Regions from separate parts of the Homo sapiens genome. Here all the other regions are linked to region 3. The links come from fine-mapping of genetic effects on gene expression. A gene starts in region 3. Each other region holds a variant in brackets. All regions are shown on one strand. Distances are from middle to middle.

The links. PIP is the estimated chance that this variant, and not a neighbour inherited with it, causes the effect.
Region 1: its variant is fine-mapped to the expression of RAD50 in lung (TOPMed, PIP 0.98).
Region 2: its variant is fine-mapped to the expression of RAD50 in monocytes (TOPMed, PIP above 0.99).

Annotation. Positions count from the first base shown.
Region 1 is chr5:132,762,315-132,766,662 of GRCh38, forward strand. SEPTIN8 (septin 8) reads right to left here. Exons shown (of 10, transcript NM_001098811.2): 2 at 3,095-3,215; 3 at 1,910-2,105; 4 at 1,392-1,578; 5 at 170-331. Among named protein-coding and RNA genes, the nearest start is that of SEPTIN8, 13 kb to the right of the region's middle. The variant G/A (reference allele first, on the strand shown) is at 2,532.
Region 2 is chr5:132,727,233-132,731,580 of GRCh38, forward strand. The region is part of intron 2 of KIF3A (kinesin family member 3A); the gene reads right to left. Among named protein-coding and RNA genes, the nearest start is that of KIF3A, 8.1 kb to the right of the region's middle. The variant G/A (reference allele first, on the strand shown) is at 1,709.
Region 3 is chr5:132,555,413-132,559,412 of GRCh38, forward strand. RAD50 (RAD50 double strand break repair protein) reads left to right here and starts at 1,565. Exons shown (of 25, transcript NM_005732.4): 1 at 1,565-2,041; 2 at 3,872-3,955. The coding sequence starts at 1,913. It also overlaps a transcript of IL5 not described here. RefSeq lists an enhancer at 1,188-1,848.

The DNA.
Region 1 (4,348 bases), 210 kb after region 3:
TCCCCTGCCCACAGATGTAGGACTGGCCAGCTCCAGATGCCCACCCTTCTGTCCTGGAGAAGCTAAGGCTGGAATCCTGGGGAACAAGAGTCTCCTGGGGCTGTGTCAGATCTGTGCCGGCTCCTCGCCCTCTGGCCCCAGGGCCCTGAGGCCCTCACCCAACGCTCACATTCATGACTGCGTTAATCTCTGCAACAGCCTCATCATCCGTGGGGAACTGGTAGATCTGGACCCCGTTGCTGACCAACTCGCCCATGATCTTGATCTTGAACTTGTGGAGCTCGCTCTTGGAGATGGTGTCAGCCTTGGCGATGATGGGAATAATGTTCACCTGCCAGGATCAGGGGAGGGGACAGCAGGCTGGTTGGCTCTTTTGAGCGGTGGTTCCCATGCCATGCCCAGGATATGGATAGACATGCCCAGGCCATATCCCTGGGCAGGGGGAAGGAGGCCAGAGAGATGGAGCCACTCCCACGGGCAGCCATAGTGCAAACCCAGCCACCTGTGGCCATTCTGATGAGTTTCAACAATTGGCTGCAGTGCTTCTTACAGCCCTGGTTCCCCCAAATCACCATCCAGCCCCAAAACTGGTCCCCCTAGGCATACCCAGCTTTGACCCAGAATCCTTTGAAGGTCCTAATTGGCCTGGGGCCTAACAGAAGGAGTGGTGGGGGGGCTATGCTCCCCACTAAGCAGGTAAAAGGACCCATCAGCAGTAGCCATAAGAAGATCCCAAAATCTCCCAGGCCCAGGCTATCCCGTTTTTTACAATAAAAATGAACTCCTGAGATGGGAGGGCAGTCACGTGAGAGCTGACAAGGGATGTGGGGTCACATGCCCTTCAAGATGCACAGCACTTCCAGTCCTTCCCATGAAGCTGCCTCCCTTCTCTACCCCTACAGTACCCACCCCTCATTCACATCCCATTTCTGGGCCTTAACTCTCCTCTCCCTGATGGGCTCAGAAGGAACCAAAGGACATTTATGTCAGGGAGGAAGGGGGAAGTGAAAGGAGGAGCTAGAAATTAGGAATTGAGAGATAGAAAATGAGCAGAGAAGAGGCTGAGATGGGAAGGGAGGTTCCCTGGAGCGAAGGGGAACAAACACTATCGGGAGCGGGAGGGGCTGACAATGAGAATGATTCAGCTGCAAGCAAGGGGCTCAGGGTCAGACCCAGGGCACAGGACTCTGGAGAATGAGCCCAGAGCATTGGGGGCCACTGGAGCAGGAGGAACAGACGCAAGACAGAGAGAGGACCGAGCCAATGGGGGGCCACCCACAAGCCCCCGACCAGGTCCCTGAGGACCATGGTGTTCAGGCATGAGGCAGCCACCACATCGCATCGCAGCAGAAGACTATGGAGCCTGTGACAGCAGGTGGGGACAGGGATACCTTGCTGTCTAGTTTCTTCATGGTCACTAGATCTAGAGACTTCAGGGAGTGCCCTGTGGGCGTGATGAAGTAGAGGCAAACGTGGATCCTTGTGTCATGGTAGTCGAAGAGCGAGCGGCGGATCTTCAGCTCCTCCTGCAGATAATTTTCAAACTGCGCATCGATGTAGTCAACTATGGGCCTGTAACTACAGACAGCTCCATCACCCAGGAGGCTGCCAGCTGAGATCAGGGGCTTGGGGCTTGGGGGGCTCAGGGCTCGGGGCCAAGCCAGGCTGCCCCCTGGCCTTTTCTTTCTGGGAACAGCTTCTGCCTGAGATCCCTGACTGGATACAGGCAGCTGACCCCTTCTCCAGACACCTAAAGGAGTAACTGGTCTGTTGGTGACCACAGAGCCTCAGATATTCCCCAAGAGGCCCTCCCTGGCCCCCTGCAGTGTGAGGGCTGGGCTACTGTTATAGGGGCCAATGTAGGTGGGGTGGGAGGAGGCTGGGTGGGGCCGCCCTTCCCGCCTCTTGCCTCTCATCCTTATTGATCTGATCCCCAAAGCCCACGGCATCCACAATGGTCAGCTTGAGCTGCACGTTGCTCTCCTGGAGGTCATAGGTCTGGGGCCGCAGGCGCACGCATGCCTCATGGTGACTGGCTTCCTCAGTCTCGAAGGTCGTGTTGAAGAGTGTGTTCATCAGTGTGGATTTGCCAATGCCGGTCTCCCCTGGGCAGTGAGGACAGGAGGGGAAGAAGTGGGTGTCATAGGCTGGAAATGGGCTGTCCTTGACTGGTGGCTAGGCCAGGCAGGGCTCAGGCATCCATGGCCCCTGGATAAGAGAAAGGGGCAGGCCGCCCACCCCATCCCTCATCACCCCCATTCCCCAGGAACTATCTTTTCCTGTGGCCTCAGAAATAACCTGTGGAAGGAAGAGCCAAAAGGTGAACTTGGACAGAAGACATAGCTGTGTGTGATATGTGATGTATTTCCTCAGGGAGCAGGGAAGAGACAGAGCCAGGCAGCTGTGTAGACACCACTGCAGACCCAATCACCTCACACATAACCTGCTCTACACAACACCCCTCCTGGGACCAGGGTGGTCATGGGACCAAGAGGGCCAGGGTCTAAAGCCACCAGTGGCTCAACCCATGC[G/A]CCCCGGACAGCCCTAGCTCCACATGGCTTTAGCTGGGGGAACTCAGGATGGGCTGCTTCCCGAAGGACACCTGCAGAGGGACCAGAAGAGCACTTTGTGTCCTTCTGGGAGTCCCAGGGAACCTCCGAGAGCCTCTCTGCTTGGGGCTGTTATTTGTTCACATGCGTGCTGGAGCACTTACCATAGGATATGGTGATGAGGGGCAGAGCTGTTTACCATAACGTCCTTGACACAGGGTGGGAAGCAGTAAATGAGTACATGTTTTTTAAATGAACAAACAAATGAATAAATGAACCTAAATCTCTGTGATAAACACCCACAGTTTACAAAGCACTTTCATGTGCCCGATCCAGTTTACTCTTCATGACAATGCTGTGTCAGGCCCTGGCTCTAACTCTATCCTTGACTCTGGCAGAGACACCAACCAAATCCTCGTCCTGACACCCCCAAAGTTTCACTCTGCCTGGGAAGCCCCCTTGCAGCTCAACAGGGGGCCAGAAGCACCCCCTCTCCCAGGAGGTTCTCACCCACCCTCTGTCTGAGGCCAGGCCCTGACACTCACCCACACAGAGGATGTTGAAGCTGAAGCCCTGAGTGACCGACTTGCTGACCAGCTGGTCGGGGAGGCTGTCGAAACCCACATGGCCGCCCAGGGAGAGGCTCCGGGGCTCTGGCTCTGCATTCTGCCAAGAGAGAAATAAAGCAAGACATGAGCCCACTGGGGAAGAAAGGTCAAGCTGCGGGGTGGGCGCTAAATCTGAGTTAAAACAGTGAAGCAGCCCCACCCGATGTCTGAATTCTCAACAAATCTCAGACACACCCTGAGTACACCCGAGCACCAACTCCAGGCCAAGTTTCCCCAGAGGGAGCCCGATGCCCCCAGGGGGAAAGGCCCTTCCACTCTGTAGCTTTGCTCCACCTGGGATGGCCAGGGATGCCTGGGCTGAGGGCTCCATGTCTCCTGGCATAGGTGGCCCCAGGGGCTGTGGTTGCTACCCATAAGGGCCCACCTGTTTTCCTACTCAGGAGGAGGCCCCAGATGGTCCCAGAGGACCAGATTGGAAAGTGTGTCTGTTCCTGCAGCCAGCTCTAGGAGACGGGGGATGCTGCCCCTGCCTAGTCCTCCCAGGCCCTCCCACTGATGCAGGACTCAAGTAGGGCCACGTCTGGTCCAAACCCCTCACAAGCATGCTCCCTCAGAGGAGCCTTCTCTATCAGCTGGGCTCGTAGCCCTCCATGTTCACCCCTGCTCCTCACACACCCACGTGTGGGACTCATGCATGGACCCTGCTAAAGGAGCCGGCCCTCACTCACACAACCCCCCCGTGGGGCTCAGGGGTGGGTTTCAAAGGGACTGAGACTCTGAGGCCTCCTCCCTTCTGCCTCAGTGGTATTCTCTAGAGACCCCCAGCTCCTGGCTCCTGACTCCTGCCACCCTTCCACCCCCATCTCAGCCCTGGTTGTCTAGACAGAAGGTTCCGGGTAAGAATGTGGAGGCCTGGCCTTAGCAGAGGGCTGAGCGGCAGGCCCCGAGTGAGCTGGGGCCACTGGAGGTGGCCCACCGCTCTATAAAAAGAAACCACGAGGACCCAAAGCAGAGGGTCATGGTCACACTCCAACTTGTGTGGCTGGTTTCTCTGACTCCCTGGAATGGGGTAAAATGCTGCCCGAGGGAAGGTTCCCAGGTTCAGCCCCTCTGGAGGGCAGACCTTAGGCAGCTCCATGTTGTGCAGAGTCATGCCTCCTCCATTCCTGAGCCCCACTGCCCTGAGACAGCTAGAAAGAGGAAGGAGAGGAAGGGGCAGCGGATTCAGAG
Region 2 (4,348 bases), 170 kb after region 3:
ACCTGAGTTTGGCATTGTGCTAGGCACTAGAGACACAGTGACAAGACAAACACAATCCCTAATCTTATGATGTGTATAATCTTGGGTTTATCATGATGATGAGTATTCAGAATGAGAAACAGGGAGTTCTAGATGGGAGTCAGGGACATCAACTAGGCACAGGAATTGTAATGGGAAAAAGGAGAGGGGGTCAGGGAGGACTTTCCAGAAGAGGTAAGGTTTAGATCTGAAATACAAGTAAGAATCAGATAGGAACAGTGTGGACAGCAAGAGCCAAGAAAAAGAATGGAAATTTTGAGGACTGAAATGAGACCAGAATGGAAGAAACAGAGATGGAAAGGGAAGATGGATGCAGGCAGAGCTAGAGAAACTGACAATGCCATAATCACACAGTATAATAAGGACGGTATTAAACTTTTTAGACCTTATCCTAAAAGCAACATGAAGCCATAGAATGATTTTTCAATCAGAGGAGTGACATCATGATCACTATGGCTATATTGTGGATGAAGAATTGGAGAAAACCAAGGGTCGATGTGGGGAAACAGAGGGCTGGAGTAGTTGGTCAGGACACAGTGTAGTAAGAAAAGATAGCCTTGGATGTGATGGCATATATGAAAACGGTTCCTCAACTAATACTACTCTATTCAGTTAACCTCAACTTTTCTCAGACTTTTTTTTGTGAAAATAATCATAACACACTTTTCAGACTTTTCCGTGAAAATAAATGAATCATACCAGAAGCCATTTTTTACACATGGGAATAAAAAAGTCTTAATTTTTTCAAACTGACTAAGTATTTCAAACTCTGCTATTAGGAATATAACACTGCACTTGAAGCAGAAAATATCATGAGCTCATAGACTGCATTTCAGAATAGACACATTAAATTATTAAATAAAAAATAAGCTTTATAAGGACATCAGCTGTCACTTACTGATCATTTGCTATGTGCTAGGTCATGTACTTTACATGCTTTTTTTTTAAGAGATGAGGTCTTGCCCTGTCACTCAGACTAGAGAGCAGTGGCACGATCATAGCTCACTGCAGCCTCAAACTCCTGGGCTCAGGAGAATCCTCCTGCCTGTAATCCACCTGTAAATAGCTGGGATTACAGGTGCACCTCCCAGCTATGTTTGCATTCTTATTTAACTTTCACCCCAATCCTAAAAAATAGGCACTATTTATTATTATTACTATTATTTAAAGATAATAAACTATGGCCAGGCGGGGTGGCTCATGCCTGTAATCCCAGAACTTTGGGGAGGCCAAGGAGGGCAGATCACTTGAGGTCAGGAGTTTGAGTCCAGCCTGGCCAACATGGTGAATCTCCACCTCTACTAAAAATACAAAAATTAGCTGGGTGTGGTGGCACATGCCTGTAGTCCCAGCTACTCGGGAAGGTGAAGCACAAGAATTGCTTGAACCTGGGAGGCGAAGGCTGCAGTGAGCCAAGATCGCACCATTGCACTCCAGCCAGGGTGACAGAGTGAGACTCTGTCTCAAAAAATACAATAAATAAATAAATAAATAAATAAATATAATAAACTATATTCTGGGCTGGGTGCCGTGGCTCCTGCTATAGTCCCAGCACTTTGAGAGGCTGAGGTGGGAGAATCACCTGAGCCCAGGAGTTCAAGACCAGCTAGGCAACACCTAGGCAACACAGTGAGACCCCATCTCTACAAAAAATTTTAAAAATTAGCCA[G/A]GCATGCATAAAAAGGAACAAAATAATGGCACTGGCAGCAACCTGGATGGAACTAGAGACTATTATTCTAAGAGAAGTAACTCAGGAACAGAAAATCAAACATCGTATGTTCTCACTTACAAGTAGGAGCTAAGCTAGGAGGGTGCAAAGGCGTAAGAACGATACAGCGGACTTTGGGAACTCAGGGGAAAGAGTGGGAGGCGAGTGAGAGATAAAAGACTACACATTGGGTACAGTGTACACTGCTTGGGTGATGGGTGCACCAAAATCTCAGAAATCACCACTGAAGAACTTATTCATGTAACTAAACACCACCTGTTCCCCAAAAACTTATTGAAATTAAAACTAAATTTAAAAAAAAATTAGCCAGACATGGTGGGATGCTCCTGTAGTCTCAGCTACTGGGAAGGCTGAAGCGAGAGAATCACTTGAGTCCAGGAGGCTGAGGCTGCAATGAGCCGTTATAGTGCCACTGCACCCCAGCCTGGGTGACAGGGTGAGACCTTGTCTTGAAAAAAACAAAACAAACAGAAAACAACAACAACAACAAAACTATATTCTGGGTCATAAAACAAGTCTTAATAAATTTAAAAACATTCAAGCCATAAAAAATATGTTCTCTAAATTGAGATTAAATTAGAAACCAATAACCAAAAATCTCTAGAGAATTTAAAAATATTTGGAAACTAAATAACACATTTCTAAATAACCCAGGATCAAAGAATAAATCAGGAGGTAAAATAGTATTTTGAACTACATGAAAATGAAAACATAGTATGTCAAAATCTGTGGGATGACACTAAAACAGTACTCAGTGGCAATTTATAGCATTAAACTCCCATATTAGAAAGGAAAAAAGGTCTCAAACCATGGCCTCAGCTTCCACTTTAAGTAGAAAGAAAAGAGGAAATTAAGCCCAAAGTAAGTAAGAAAAAAAAATAAAGATCAGAGCAGAAATAGATGAAATAGGAAACATAAAAACAGAAAGAAAAATTAATAAAACCAAAAGCTGGTTCTCTGAGAAGATCGATAAGATAAACCTCTAGTCAGACTAATCAGGAAAAAAAGAAAAGACGTAAGTTACCAATATCAAAAATGAGAAAAGTTATACCACTACATTCAACATACTAAAAGAATAATAAGGGAATAGTATAAACAACCTTTTGCCAATGAATTTGACAACTTAGATGAAACGGACTAATTCCGTGAAAGACAAGCTACCAAACCTCACTTAAGAAAAAACTGGCTGGGCACGGTGGCTCACGCCTGTAATCCCAGCACTCCGGGAGGCCAAGGCAGGCGGATCACCTGAGGTCAGTAGTTTGAGACCAGCCTGGCCAATACGGTGAAACCCGTCCCTACTAAAACTACAAAAATGAGCCAGGCATGGTGGCGTGTGCCTGTAATCCCAGCTACCCAGGTGGCTGAGGCGAGAGAATCGCTGGAACCCGGGGAAGCAGAGGAGACAGTGAGCCGAGATCGCGCCACTGCACTCCAGCCTGGGCAACAGAGCAAGACTCTGTCTCAAAAAAAGAAAAAAAAAAAAAGAAAAAATAGATAACCTGGCCGGGCACGGTAGCTCATGTCTGTAATCCCAGTGCTTTGCAAGGCTGAGGTGGGAGGACTGGTTGAGTCCAGGAGTTCAAGACCAGCTTAGAAAACATAGTGAGACCCTTATCTCTACCAAAAAAAAATTAAAATTAGCTGGGCATGGTGCGGTGGCACACACATATAGTCCCACCTACTCAGGGGGCTGAAGTGGGAGGATCGCTTGAGCCCGGGAGGTAGACGCTAAGTGAGCCATGATCACACCACTGCACTCCAGCCTGGTCGACAGAGTGAGACCCTGTTTCAAGAAAAAAATAATAATAATAGAAAAAATTAGCCAGGCGTGGTAGCACACACCTGTAGCCTCAGCTACTGGGGAGGCTGAGGTGGGAGGATTGCTTAAGGCCAGGAAGTCGAGGCTGCAGTGAGCTGTGATTGTGCCACTGTACTCCAGCCTGGGTAACAGAGTGAGACCCTGATTTAAAGAGAAAAAGAAAAAATACATAATCTGAATAGTCTTATGTCTATTAAAGAAATTGAATCAATAGTTGAAAACCTTCCCACAAAGAAAACTTCAAGCCCAGATGGCTTCACTGATGAATTCTACCAAACATTTAAGAAATAATACCAATTCTAGACAAATTCTTCTAGAAAACTGAAAAGAAGGGGATACTTTCTAACCCATTCTATGAAACTAGCATTATCACAATACCCAAACCAGAAAAATGCATTAGAAGAAAACTATATACTTACATCCCTCATGAACATGGATGCCAAAATTTTTTTAATTTAGCAAATAAATCTAACAATATATGAACAGAATAATGCATCATGACCAAGTGGCAAAGCTAGTTTCACATTCAAAAATCAATCAATGTAATTGACCATATTAACAAACCTTAAAAAAAAAGATTATTTCAATAGGTGCAGAAAAAAAATTACATTTGACAAAATCCAATATACAATCCAAAAACTCTCAGCGAACTAAGAATAGAAGGGAACTTCCTCAAACCTACAAAGGATATCTGTTAAAATTTACAGACATCATCATACTGGTGAAAGAATGAATGCATTTTCCCTAAGATCAGGAAC
Region 3 (4,000 bases):
AATGGGTAGTTTGTTTTGCAAAGTGAAAAGATTTGTAGAGGTTGAAAGGTGGTGACGGTTGTACGTGAGTATACTTAACACCACTGAAATGTACACTTGGTTAAGATAGTAAATTCTTTTTGAGACGGAGTCTCGCTCTGTTGCCCAGGCTGGAGTGCAGTGGTGCGGTCTCGGCTCACTGCAAGCTCCGCCTCCCGGGTTCATGCCATACTCCTGCCTCAGCCTCCTGAGTAGCTGGGACCATCGGCGCCTGCCACCATGCCCGGCTAATTTTTTGTGTTTTCAGTAGAGACGGGGTTTCACCGTGTTAGCCAGGATGGTCTTCATTTCCTGACCTCGTGATCCACCCGTCTCGGCCTCCCAAAGTGCTGGGATTACAGGCGTGAGCCACCGCGCCTGGCCAAGACAGTAAATTTTATGTGTATTTTACAATTTTTAAAATAAAAAAAGGTCTTTCGTCTTTTCCCATTGTTTTATTACATTTGCTTTGCCAAGTAAGACATTCCTATATAATTTTAATGTTTTGTTCCATTAGTTATTTTAACTATTTTGTAATAACTGACACTTTCCGGTTTTTTTTAACCTGGTACAGCAAGAGACTATTTCTCACTGGTCTTCCCCACTTGCATCCTTTGGCACATACATTTATGTATTAGGTTCTGTAAATTATTTGCTTGGGATTGTATGACTGGAGAAACATTTCCTACATTTTTCCAAGGCAGGCAGAGGCAAATTATACCACTACAGTAATTCCAAATTTGTGTTTCATTTAAATGTCCTCCACTATTGTTTCAGTAATTTTTATGTATGTTTCTCTAGGCCCTTAAATGTGATATCCCTCCATTAAGTTTGTTTCCAAGAAAGCAATATTCTCAGTTACTTCTGAGACAGGTAACTTCTCTTTCCCTTATTTTTAAAGATATCTATTGCTGGGAGCACTGATCGGAATGGATTACCTCTACATTCTTCATATTTGCAGACTGCTTTTAGTTTTAGTTCCCAGACTTTTGGTCTTAAAGACGCCTTTACACTAAAAAATTACGGGGGACCTCAAAGAGCGTGTACGTGAGTTATAATTATCAACATTTACTCAATTAGAAATTAAAATTGGTATTTCTAAGCGCAAGAATACACATGCGCACATTCCATTAACCGCCACTGCAATGGCGTCATCACATGTTATGTGATCACTGGAAATTACTACACGAACGTTAGAGAGAGAATGAGAATGAAAAGGAAAATAGTTTTGACACGAACTGACCCCGCTTCCTGGGTCTCCAATCCACCCCACCACTACCCCCATTCCAGGAGTCCCAGGATCAAGCTTTGGGAAGCGCCATCCGTCACAGGTCTTGGTCTCCCCTTCCAAAAGTCAGTGCCTCTCCAGGCTGCCCATCCCCAGCAAAGATCCGGAAGTCCGCTGCCCCTGGCAACAGCACCCAGCACCTAGCCCTCTGCTTCGCCGTACCGCACCCGGAAGTCGGAGCTGCGCACGCACCGCGGGACTCTGATTTCCCGGCGTGCCCCAGGAGAGCGGCGTGGACGCGTGCGGGCCTAGAGGCCCACGTGATCCGCAGGGCGGCCGAGGCAGGAAGCTGTGAGTGCGCGGTTGCGGGGTCGCATTGTGGCTACGGCTTTGCGTCCCCGGCGGGCAGCCCCAGGCTGGTCCCCGCCTCCGCTCTCCCCACCGGCGGGGAAAGCAGCTGGTGTGGGAGGAAAGGCTCCATCCCCCGCCCCCTCTCTCCCGCTGTTGGCTGGCAGGATCTTTTGGCAGTCCTGTGGCCTCGCTCCCCGCCCGGATCCTCCTGACCCTGAGATTCGCGGGTCTCACGTCCCGTGCACGCCTTGCTTCGGCCTCAGTTAAGCCTTTGTGGGCTCCAGGTCCCTGGTGAGATTAGAAACGTTTGCAAACATGTCCCGGATCGAAAAGATGAGCATTCTGGGCGTGCGGAGTTTTGGAATAGAGGACAAAGATAAGCAAATTATCACTTTCTTCAGCCCCCTTACAATTTTGGTTGGACCCAATGGGGCGGGAAAGACGGTAAGTCTTCAGTAGCCGCCTTCAGTTTACAGGTCGCTACATCTTTCGGAGAATAAAATGGGAAGTTGAGAACTCTCCTTAGGAGCAGAAGCGTCCCTAGGGCTCCACAGGTGTAGGCCCTTAAAGTGCCTTAGGGTGTGGCCTGCAGGCTACAGCGACCTTAGGAGTTTGCCTGAAGCAGTCTCGGAAGGATGTCCGGACCTGGCCTGGGGACAAGGTTTACTTAAGAATCCCACGATACCGGGAGCTGTCGCCGCTCACTCAGAGTTCAGTTCCCACTGGATGCCCTTTGGTCTGTATTGATGTTTTTAACGCTGTCTCCTTGCTTTCAAAGCATAGCATTCACTTCCCAGTAGTTGTCCCATACAAGAATTCCTTTAAAAGTTATAAAATGATACATACATGACTAAAGAGTTTCCAAGTATGCCAACTGTCCAGACATAATACATGGAAAATAAATAAATTCAAAATGTAACTGATGTAGTGGGGCTTAACTTGGAAAACTTCTCTTCTTAAAACTCAGTCAAAAATTTAACGTTGGTGCACGACTGACTTTTTTTTTTTTTTAAAGCCGTGGGAATATTTATAAATTTGAATGGAAAGAATAACCAAGAGGCATTCTGGTCAGGAATAGTGGCTTAAGAAAAAGCAAGACGATGTCAGTATAGCAGGGAGAAGAGTCTAAAGGAAGGATTTGTGAAGAGTGTAGAAAGAGAGAAGGTTGAGAATTGAATGCCAAACTTGTTTACTTTTGTTTTTGTAAAAATGTTATTTGTTGAATGCTTGTTATGTACTTAGGATTGTACTAAATACTAGCAGAAGGGAGAGTAGTACTGTATAGTGTTTATGAGGACTGGCTGCCTCAATACAGCTTTTTCGCTTCATTTATTAGTTGTCTGATTGTTTGCGAGTGACCTCACTGCTCTGTGCCTTAGTTTTCTCATTTATAAAATGGAGATTAAAAATAGTTTCTACAGCTGGGCACGGTGGCTCACGCCTGTAATCCCAGCACTTTGGGAGGCCGAGGCGGGTGGATCACCTGAGGTCAGGAGTTCGAGACCAGCCTGGCCAACGTGGCGAAACCCCATCTCTAATAAAAATACAAAAATTAGCCAGGCGTGGTGGCGCATGCCTGTAATCCTAGCTACTGGGGAGGCCGAGGCGGGAGAATCGCTTGAACCGGGGAGGTGGAGGTTGCAGTGAGCCGAGATCACGCCATTGCACTACACCAGCCTGGGTGACAGAGGGAGACTCTCTCCCCCCACAAAAAAAAAAAAAAAAAAAAAAAAGTTTCTACAGGCTGGGCATGGTGGCTGACGACTGTAATCCGAGCCGTTTGGGAGGCTGAGGCTGGGGGATTGCTTGAGCCCAGGAGGTCGAGAGGTCGAGGCTGCAGTAAGCCATGATCATGCAGCTGCACTGCAGCCTGGGCAGCAGAATGAGACCCTGTCTCTTAAACAAAAAGTTCCTACAGCCTGGAGTTAATGTGAGAATTAAATAAATGTATGTAAGAGTGCTTAGTACAATACAGTACTTAACTGTTAGCCATTCTTATTATTAACTTAAATTAGTTTAAAGGGTTTCAGTTGAAAATAATTATTTTTTTCCCAAGTAACAATTCTTCATATTAGGATAACTTCTTAGTTATATAGCATTTCTGTGAACTTACAGCATTAACACTTAATCATATTTTTATTACAGGTTTTATAATGTCAGATTTTATCTTTTATAGTTTCCATGATAAATAATATTTTTGTAATGAATTCATATTTTATGGTAAACTTCTGTGGTTCTCTTATAACGAAATAATGTAATTTTCTATTTCTTTAGACCATCATTGAATGTCTAAAATATATTTGTACTGGAGATTTCCCTCCTGGAACCAAAGGAAATACATTTGTACACGATCCCAAGGTAATGGTGCTAGTACAATTTTGTATTTTTATAATTATAAAAATG